Homo sapiens: one gene and its partner. The protein of the gene in region 1 purifies or fractionates together with the protein of each later gene. This does not show direct contact. Each region holds a gene or a part of one and is shown on either strand. Other genes may lie near its edges.

Evidence for each region. The genes of interacting proteins can lie anywhere in the genome.
Region 2: the proteins of LMAN1L (region 1) and SPCS2 purify together in Homo sapiens (affinity purification with mass spectrometry; one large-scale study listed by BioGRID and IntAct). This does not show direct contact.

What each region holds. Positions count from the first base shown.
Region 1 is NC_000015.10:74,818,173-74,823,286, forward strand, and holds part of LMAN1L (protein ERGIC-53-like precursor), read left to right. Parts: intron 1-545; coding exon 546-645; intron 646-979; coding exon 980-1,100; intron 1,101-1,871; coding exon 1,872-1,927; intron 1,928-2,462; coding exon 2,463-2,595; intron 2,596-2,902; coding exon 2,903-3,054; intron 3,055-3,656; coding exon 3,657-3,728; intron 3,729-4,469; coding exon 4,470-4,537; intron 4,538-5,114.
Region 2 is NC_000011.10:74,958,442-74,962,773, forward strand, and holds part of SPCS2 (signal peptidase complex subunit 2), read left to right. Parts: intron 1-4,332. UniProt on the Homo sapiens protein: Component of the signal peptidase complex (SPC) which catalyzes the cleavage of N-terminal signal sequences from nascent proteins as they are translocated into the lumen of the endoplasmic reticulum.

The DNA.
Region 1 (5,114 bases):
TAAATCCAAGTCCCAACACTCCGTCAGGCAGGGCTTGCTTCCCCTGCTCCTCTCTCTTCTGCCAAGGGAGCAGGGTACAACAAGGGAGACTCAAGCTAGACAAGGTACATGTCCCATGCCAGCTCGCCCAGCGGAAAGGGAGGTGGCACAGCAAATCTGGGCAGAGTGGCTTCTGGGACTGCCCTCACTGTCCAGGCCTTGAGTCCTGTATATCCTGGCTGGATTCCAACTGCCCACAAGAGTCAGGCATGGTGGCTCACACCTGTAATCCCAGCACTTTGGCAGCCAAGACAGGTGGATCACTTGAGGTCAGGAGTTTGAGACCAGCCTGACCAACAATGTGAAACCCCATCTCTGCTAAAAATACAAAAATTAGCCGGGCATGGTGGTGCATGCCTGTAGTCTCAGCTACTTGGGAGGCTGAGGTGGGAGGATCACTTGAGCCCAGCAGGCAGAAGTTGCAATGAGCCACAACTGCACCACTGCACTCCAGCCTGGGCAGCGACTCTTTCTCAAAAACAAACAAATGAACAAACTGCCCACAGGGATGGAGCTAGCCAAGGGCTGGGCTCCTGTCATTGGGACTTCCGGAACCGGCCACACCCCTTCAGAGCACGGATCACCTACTGGGGGCAGAGGCTGCGCGTGAGTCACCCTTCCTGCTTCTGACAGGGCTCTGAGTTACAGAGCTGCTATGTGTGCGTGCCCACGGCCCCAACACACCAGTGCCTGTGACACCACGTGAGGTCCCTGGCACACACGGGCCAACATCCACAGGGGATCCTCCATCCCTACACAGAATCCTAACACTCACCCAGAGCACATACATGTAAGGGCTCACATGAGACCAGGAGTGCGGGTCACCTCCATGCCATTCTGATACCAAGCCCTAGGGCCACCTGCCATCCCACGGCCAGGGGAGCCAGGGAGTCAGAGGTAGGGACACCCCCCCACTGCTCACTCTCTCCATGTCCCTCAGATGTCCTTGAACAGTGGCCTCACTCCCAGTGATCCAGGTGAGTTCTGTGTGGATGTGGGGCCCCTGCTTTTGGTCCCTGGAGGTTTCTTTGGGGTCTCAGCAGCCACCGGCACCCTGGCAGGTGAGGATCCCACTGGACAGGTAAGAGCAGAAGGGCAGTGATGAATAAATCACCCTCAGCACACCTTCTAAAGAGCACTGGGGTGGCGTCAGCCACTTCACCACATGACCTGGGCTTCTGTGACCCTTGGGAGAAGTCATGTCTGCCTTGAGACTTGCAAGTCTCAAATGGGATAAAACAAGAGAAGCTTTGATTTCAGTGCTGGCCACATAAGTGCCCCTAGCTGTGAGTTGCGGGACAAGTGGAAGACAGACAGCAAAGAGGGGCATTTAGGAAAATGGAGCAAAGAAATGTGACACCATGGAGAGTCCACGGAGGGTCCCACAGCGGGAAAGCTGAGGGCAACCAGAGCGTGGGAGTCCTTGAATGCCAGGACCTTGGTCTGGTTTCTGAGGAGGAGAGTGACATGGTCAGAGCTATGCTGGAAAGGTGGCCACTGTGCAGTTGCTACTACCAGTAGCAGCTGTGCTCTGGGGGCCTAAGAGTGTCAGATGGTCTGCTGCCATGGCTCTAGCCCAGGATGTTTTGGGATCGTCCAGTTCTGCCACAGGGGCCTGCCTCTGACTGAGTGTGAGGTTCAACCCTCACCACCCACCCGTCTACCTGTCAACCCTCACACCTTTCCTAGGAAGTAAGCAAGACAAGCATCAGACGGTGGCCCAAAGTCACCCCTCTTGCCTCGGTGGGATATCATGGCGGTTAGGGTGAAGGCTGAGCGAGGGGGTTGCTGGGTGGAGGGGTCTTACTTCTCCTTCATCTGTCCCCTTCCAGATGATCATGATGTCCTGTCCTTCCTGACCTTCAGCCTGAGTGAGCCCAGCCCAGAGGTGATGCCAGCCCTGGCCTACCTGGGAATGGCAGCCCAGGGACCCTGCCCTCACCCATGTCATGGTGCCCTCAGACCTGCCATTCCAGCCCTTACCTCCACCTGGCCTCTGAGCTCTGCTCAGGCCAGACCTTGTGCAGGGCAGTGCTGCGGGCCAGGGCCGGTGTGTGAGGTCTCGCAGGCTGGCTGGCTCAGGCTGTGACATTACAGTTCAGAGCGATCAGTGCCAGGTCTCAAAAGGTGCAGGGGGCTGTGGGAGCACAGAGGAGGAGTCCCAACCAGCCAGGGGGTCAAGGAAGGCTGCCTGGAGGAGATGAGCTTAAAGGAGCCTCGGACCAGCACATATAGGCTTGAGGCCACAGCAGGGAGGGAAGATGGTGGGGATCTGCGTGAAGGCAGAACTCAGAGGGCTGGAAACTGCAGGGCCAGCTGGCCAGGGAGGAAGGCTGGGCTCGTGGGGAAGCCTGTGGGAAGGCTCCCCTTGCTTCTGGATCTCCCATGGGTTTGGGGCCCGACTTTCTGTCTTCCTCCCCTAGGTTCCCCCTCAGCCCTTCCTGGAGATGCAGCAGCTCCGCCTGGCGAGGCAGCTGGAAGGGCTGTGGGCAAGGCTGGGCTTGGGCACCAGGGAGGATGTAACTCCAAAATCAGACTCTGAAGCTCAAGGAGAAGGTAGGGACCGAGAGAGCGGGCAGGTGGCGCCCATCTGAGTGTCACAGCATCCTCCACCCTTATGACCAGGGGTCCTTTAATCAGTAGGGAAACTGAGGCCTGAGGAGGCCACATCTAAGCAGGCCCTGGGCCCAAGTGTTCTGTGCTATCCCCACCTTACCACTCAGACTCATCTTCCAGGAGAGGGTCTTGGAGGCAGCAGCCACACCTTCTGGCACCCCTCTCCAAGAAGCCACCCCAAAGATAAGATAGGCTGTGTTACCCCACCATGGCTGGCTGCCCATCCCAGCTCTGCCCTAATCCCCAGGGGAAAGGCTCTTTGACCTGGAGGAGACGCTGGGCAGACACCGCCGGATCCTGCAGGCTCTGCGGGGTCTCTCCAAGCAGCTGGCCCAGGCTGAGAGACAATGGAAGAAGCAGCTGGGGCCCCCAGGCCAAGCCAGGCCTGACGGAGGCTGGGTGAGAAGCCCTACAGGCATCCAAGGCTCCACCTGCGGGCCTGAAAGAGGAGCAAGCACTGTAGTCAGCAACTAGTCTCCCCTAAGGCCTGGAGGGAAAGGAAGGCAGGGATGAAATGCTGCAGGTCACAGGATGGGGCAGGGCAGCATGCAGGATGGCATCTCTGCACAAGCAAATGCGCACGGGGCTGGGGCTGAGGCTGGGGCTGGGGAGAGGAGATGCCAGCTATTTGGACTCAGCTCTGTAGATGAATGACAGAAATAGACTAGGTGCTAATTTGCATGTAGCTTCACATGCGATTTGCATAGGGCTTGCTTAATGCTCAGTTGCACCAGAAGCCTCATTGCATCTCCATTGCCATCTGGCTCCTCCCCCAGGGAGTCATAACTCGGGTCATGCCCAGCCTGGGGGCCTGAGAGCTAAACTCAGCCAAGGTGTTAGATACTGGGCAGAGGAGGCCAGCAGCTCTTGTGGGCTTTGCTGGGCTCTGACAGCTCGAGGTTTTAATCTTGTGTCAGAGCAGCTTAGGCTGGGCTGCTAGTGTGGGGAAGAGGGGAGGGGACTTACACTCCAGGGCCAAGCCTCTCTGATCCTATCCCCAGGCCCTGGATGCTTCCTGCCAGATTCCATCCACCCCAGGGAGGGGTGGCCACCTCTCCATGTCACTCAATAAGGTAGGGACCCAAACACTGGGTGTTGACCAGCACTGGCCCCAGCTTGGCTGGTGCTCTGGGAGAACCAGGGCAGAGAGGACTGGGCTGGGCCTCTGCTTCCTTCAGGGGACAGAACCACTTTTAGAAGGGAGACGTATTTTGGCTTGGCATGGTGGCTCACGCGTGTAATCCTAGCACTTTGGGAGGCCAAGGCGGACAGATCACGAGGTCAAAAGACTGACACCATCGGGCAGATCACAAGGTCAAAAGATCGAGACCATCCTGGCCAACATGGTGAAACCCTGTCTCTACTGAAAATACAAAAATTATACAAAAATTAGCTGGGCGTGGTGGCATGCATCTGTAGTCCCAGCTACTTGGGAGGCTGAGGCAGAAGAATCGCTTGAACCCAGGAGGCAGAGGTAGCAGTGAGCTGAGATTGTGCCACTGCACTCCAGCCTGGCCGCAGAGCAAGACTCCATCTCAAATAAATAAATAAGAAGGGAGAAGTATTTTGAGAAAACCCTGAAGTGGCCACTGTTGGGAGGAAACAACCACCCCTGGGGAGAGGGGCGTGAGTGGAGGGGGAATGTGGATGCCCTTATGGATGAGGTCAGAGAAACACAGTGTGTCCAAATAAGGAGGCCCTGGTAATCTGGGAAGGCCTCTGGAAGGAAGAGGCTGCAGTGCCGCTGGGAAGGTGGGCTCTGAGAAGAGAGGGGCTATGTCCTGGGCCCTAGACAAGAGGCTGCCCCTCTGCAGGACTCTGCCAAGGTCGGTGCCCTGCTCCATGGACAGTGGACTCTGCTCCAGGCCCTGCAAGAGATGAGGTAAGGGACTGGGTGGGGACCCCTCCACCACCTTGTTTCTCCGCCTTAAGTTCCTCCATTAGCCCTTCATTCCTTCCATCATTTCCTGAGCGCCCAGCACACAGCCTGTCAATTGGAAGGGCTACTGGTGGAGTTAGGTTTGTTGAGTTGACTTGAATTTAATTGAATCAAGTTTAATGTTTTGCAAGTCCTAGTTAAAAAGCAATTCTCTCCTGGAGAAGCCCATCATGAAGGCCCCCTCAGACACTCCCACCCTCAGGAGGCTTAAGAAATCTGAGCATTCCTTCAATGGCAGCTCCTAGGATGAGGGGCATTTTGTTGGGGGCTCTTGGAGAGGGAGCACAGCCAAGATCAGACCAGTTGGATGAGACAGTCCCTGACTTGGTTTTGTGCCCCCATTAACTTCCCGGTATCCCACTCTAGGCCAGGCCTCTGGAGCCCTGGGGGTTGGGGGAGTCCTGGGGATGCTGTGGAGGAGGCATGCATCCCAGGCTGAAGCCTAAAGCCCCACCTGTACACACACAGCTAGATGCCTAGGGTTGGGGGTGGAGAGGCACCTAGATGAGAAGAAGGAAAG
Region 2 (4,332 bases), on another chromosome or scaffold:
ATTCTTAAGATAGACATCATTTTCTTCCCAAACTGAACATTTTCCTTTCTTGCTAAATATGTGTGTGTGGGGGGGATATAGGCACTATATATTTCCAACTGAAATTGTAATCTCAGCTTCTGAGTTTGCCATCAGTTTTTATTATCTCCTTATTTTAGTTTAGAACTCCACATATACAAATGGGTATTTATCCTTTTTCCTCCTGTATTCTTCTTCTTGGAAAATGACATGATGGCTCCAACAAGTCATCCAAGCCCTAATTCTAGTAGGTGGTCATCTCTGTCTCTTCTCTTTCATGTTCCTTATAACTAGTCTGTTACTAAGTCCTGCCAATTCTACCTCAGAATACTCCCTTTCAGTCCCCCTACTGCTGCTCTGTTGAGCATTGAGGCTCTGCACTTACATCAGGCCCCATCTGCATCTCTATGTCCAGTGTTACTCCCCTCCAGATCATCTGCCAGGTTGCCACTAAAATGACTTAAAAAAAAAACGTAAATTTGATTGTTATTCCCATGCTTAAAATACTCTCCATTGCCTGCTTCAGAATAAAGTTCAAGTTCTTTAGCCTAATAACTAGGAAATGGTTTCTCTCGGATGCCTCATCTCCTACTACTTTCCCCCTTTGCAGCTTCTGTCTACTTTCTAAACTGGGATAAAGGAGAGAAAAAGTTTATTTTTCTTAAAGCCATGCTCAGTTCTGTCTAAATCAGAACAGGGTCACCATTGACACCACTCTCACCCTTGGTAATTCTTCATCTCTCCAGTGTGAATTGAGGAATCCTTTGAGTCTTATTATCAAGCCAGGGAACTTTATGAAGCAATCCACTCAGGTCTTTTATATCACTGCATAACTTCTGTTTTCACTGTGATTAAAATAAGATAATTGAAGGTGTTCATGTGTCATACTCAAAACAATTTTGTTTTGCTGGACATATCCTAATGACCAAGGATTTTGTCCTTTTGTTTTTTGAGATGGATTCTCACTCTATTGTCCAGGCTGGAGTGCAGTGGCACAATCACGGCTCACTGCAGCCTATACCTCCTGAGCTCAAGCCATCTTCCTGCCTCTGTCTCCCAAGTAGCTGGGACTTTAGGTGGGCACCACCACACCTGGCTAATTTTTTAAATTACATTTTTTTGTAGATACGGAGGAGTCTTGCTATGTTGCCCAGGCTGATCTCAGACTCCTGAACTCAAGCGATCCTTCCACCTTGGCCTCCCAAAGTGCTGAAGTTATAAACATGTTGCCACTGTGCCTGGCTTATTTTGTCTCTTTTTTTGATCCCACCCTATCCCTTTGAGTGTGGTGAGATGCATGGGAACAGAAGGCTGTATTCCCTCAAATGAGTTAATTTGGAAAATGCCTTCCTGTACTGACTACATATCCTTCAGACCTGAGTTGTGTTTAATATCCTTCCTAAGCACTTATGGAGTTCCTGATGCCATACCTTCAGTGAAGTGTCTTTGTAGAATTTTTTATTATTCAAATGTGCAGTGGAGAAACGTAACTGAAATGATTCTTCATAATGTTCTATTAAAGCTATCAAATGCCTGTTTTCTTTGAACTGGTTAGCCAGCCAGCTCTGGCATCAGGTGTGTTAGTCTGACAAAAGTTGTCTTTATCTTGGCCGGGTGTGGTGGCACTTTGGGAGGCTGAGGTACGTGGATCACTTGAGGCCAGGAGTTCGAGACTAGCCTGGCCAACATGGTGAAACCCCATCTCTATTAAAAAATACAAAAATTAGCTGACTGTGATGACACTTGTCTGTAATCCCAGCTACTCGGGAGGCTGAGGCATGAGAATTGCTTGAACCCAGGAGGCGGAGGTTACAGTGAGCTGAGATCGCGCCACTGCGCTCAGCCTGGGTGACAGAGTAAGACTCTGTCTCAAAAAAAAGTTGTCTTTATCTCTTCAGTGGGTGGTGTAGGGGAGTAATTTCTTTAAGATAGTACTTTTTGAGCTCTGTTTTCAGCCAAATTGCAGTTGGTTTTACATTGGGGGGGGAGGTTCAACATTTTTGATACCCTGTGAGTTTTGTGGTCCTATTCAAGATTAACATCTTTTTTTTTTTTTTAGGTTTTTAAAATGTTATTACTAGAGCTTGTTAGGAATCAAGATACAATGTATAGCTGTCACTTCAGGGATCTCTTTGTTTCCTGTTCTTTGTGTTTTTGATGGCTAATAATTCCTTTCCTTGCACTTCATGGGAAAGCAGTGTAGAATAATGAGAGAGCATGGGTTTTGAGTCCTGGCTTTACCACTTTCTGCCTTTCACCTTTGGCAGGTTTTTTAAACCCTTAGTGTTATCTGTAAAAGGAGGATTTTAACTGTTCTTACCTTGTAGAGTTATTGTGGAAATTAAGTGAGATAGTGTATATAAAATACTTAGCACATCCGTAGCACATGTTAGGCATTCAGGAAATGGTAGCTATGATTATACCTTCTGTCTGCCCTCCATCCCTTAAAGAAATTCTGTGAATAAGAACCAAGTGAGATCATTTTGACCATGTTTACATTTGCTAAATTTAAACTGGAGAGTAACATTTTAGAGATCTTTTTCTTCCCTTTTTTTCTTTATAAGGATTTAGACATTAAAAAAAAAAAAAAGCTATTGAGAGTATATTGTGTTCCAGGCTCTGAGAATACAAAAGTGTATAGTCCCTGTGACCCAGTGAGGGAGACAATACATACAGTCAGGTAACCATGATGCAGTGTATTATATAGTTTTATATCATTAATAGCAACAGCAATAGCTAATTTTTATGAAGTACTTGCTAGGTACCAGGCACTGTGCACTGTGCTATGTTTTATAATTACACTATTTACTTCTCATACCAACCTGTGAAATAGATACTTTCACCATCTTAATTTTACAATTTAGCAAACTAATAAGGCTTTAGAGAGGTTAAATTATTTGCCCAGTGCCTTCCAGTATTAAGTGGAAAAGTGAGGATTAAAATAAAGTAGCCTGACTCCATTCTCCCTTGGATAATAAGGATTCACCTTATTGGGTAAGGAAAAAAAGCATTTGCCTACATACATTTGTATTTAGTCTAAATCCAGTCAGCTTGTTTTTTGTTGTTGTTGTTGTTTGTTTGTTTGTTTGTTTGTTTTTTGAGATGGAGTCTTCCTCTGTTCACCCAGGCTAGAGTGCAATGGCACCATCTCGGCTCACTGCAACCTCTGCCTCCTGGATTCAAGTGATCTCTTGCCTCAGCCTCCCAAGTAGCTGGGATTACTTAGCCTGGCTAAGTTTTGTACTTTTAGTAGAGATGGGGTTTCACAATGTTGGCCAGGCTGGTCTCGGACTCCTAACCTCAAATGATCCATCTGCCTCAGCCTCCCAAAGTGCTGGGATTATAGGTGTGAGCCACTGCACCTGACCAGAACCAATCAGCTTGTGATTTGAAGTACAGTACACCTTTAAGAATAAGGCCACAATCTGCTTTGGGATTGAGTTCAGGGATTAAGGCAAATAAAAATAAGTTTATATCACTGAAGAAGAGACAGTTTTATAATGAGCCATGTATTTGTAATTTAGCCCTAAAGAATTTTGTTGGCCTGTCATTTACTATTTGTATGGCACTTAACATCTTTGAACTCTAGTTTTCTAATCTGAAGGACATTGGTTTCTGGATTGAGGGTCTGCTTAGTGCTGCAATAAAAAGATGAGTGGCAATAGCAGTTTTACAGTGGGTGAAAATTGACCTGTGTAAGGGATATCATCTTGAAATTTTAGATACTGGCAACATAAAGAACTTTTTCTAGATTTCCAGAAGGAAAGGTGTTCAACATAAATCACATCATTTATACAAACAGTTGAGGCACAGTGAGCCATTCTTATCACTGAGGGAATGTATTTATATCAGTGTAGGGATTTGTTTTATCAGCCAGCTTGTCAGATACCAGCCAAGGGCCAACCTTGCAAACAAGCCTTGCTAAAGATGGCAGTCTTGGACCCAGGTTCACTTATTTCTGCACACTGCCCTTCTTTTTAATTTATCCTGTGAGGTCCCACATAAAAGAAACTAATTTTTGCTTTCTCTTTTTATTATTACAAAAGGAAAGCAATTTGCAATTAGTGTTGAGGAAGACAAAATTGAGGCAAAAAAAAAAAAAAGATAGCTTTTAAAATACCCGAATTAGTAGTAGAGAGAACATGAGGAGCAGCATACATTTTAGTTGATGAGCAGTTTTTGAGCATGATGAGAAGTAATAATCAGAAAAAGAAGCACCTAATAGCAACTCCCCTTCTTCCAGATGGTTCTCCATACTGTAGTAGAGACATTACTTGCTTCGAAATGGGCTGTGTTGCCGTAAAGTCAAATTAT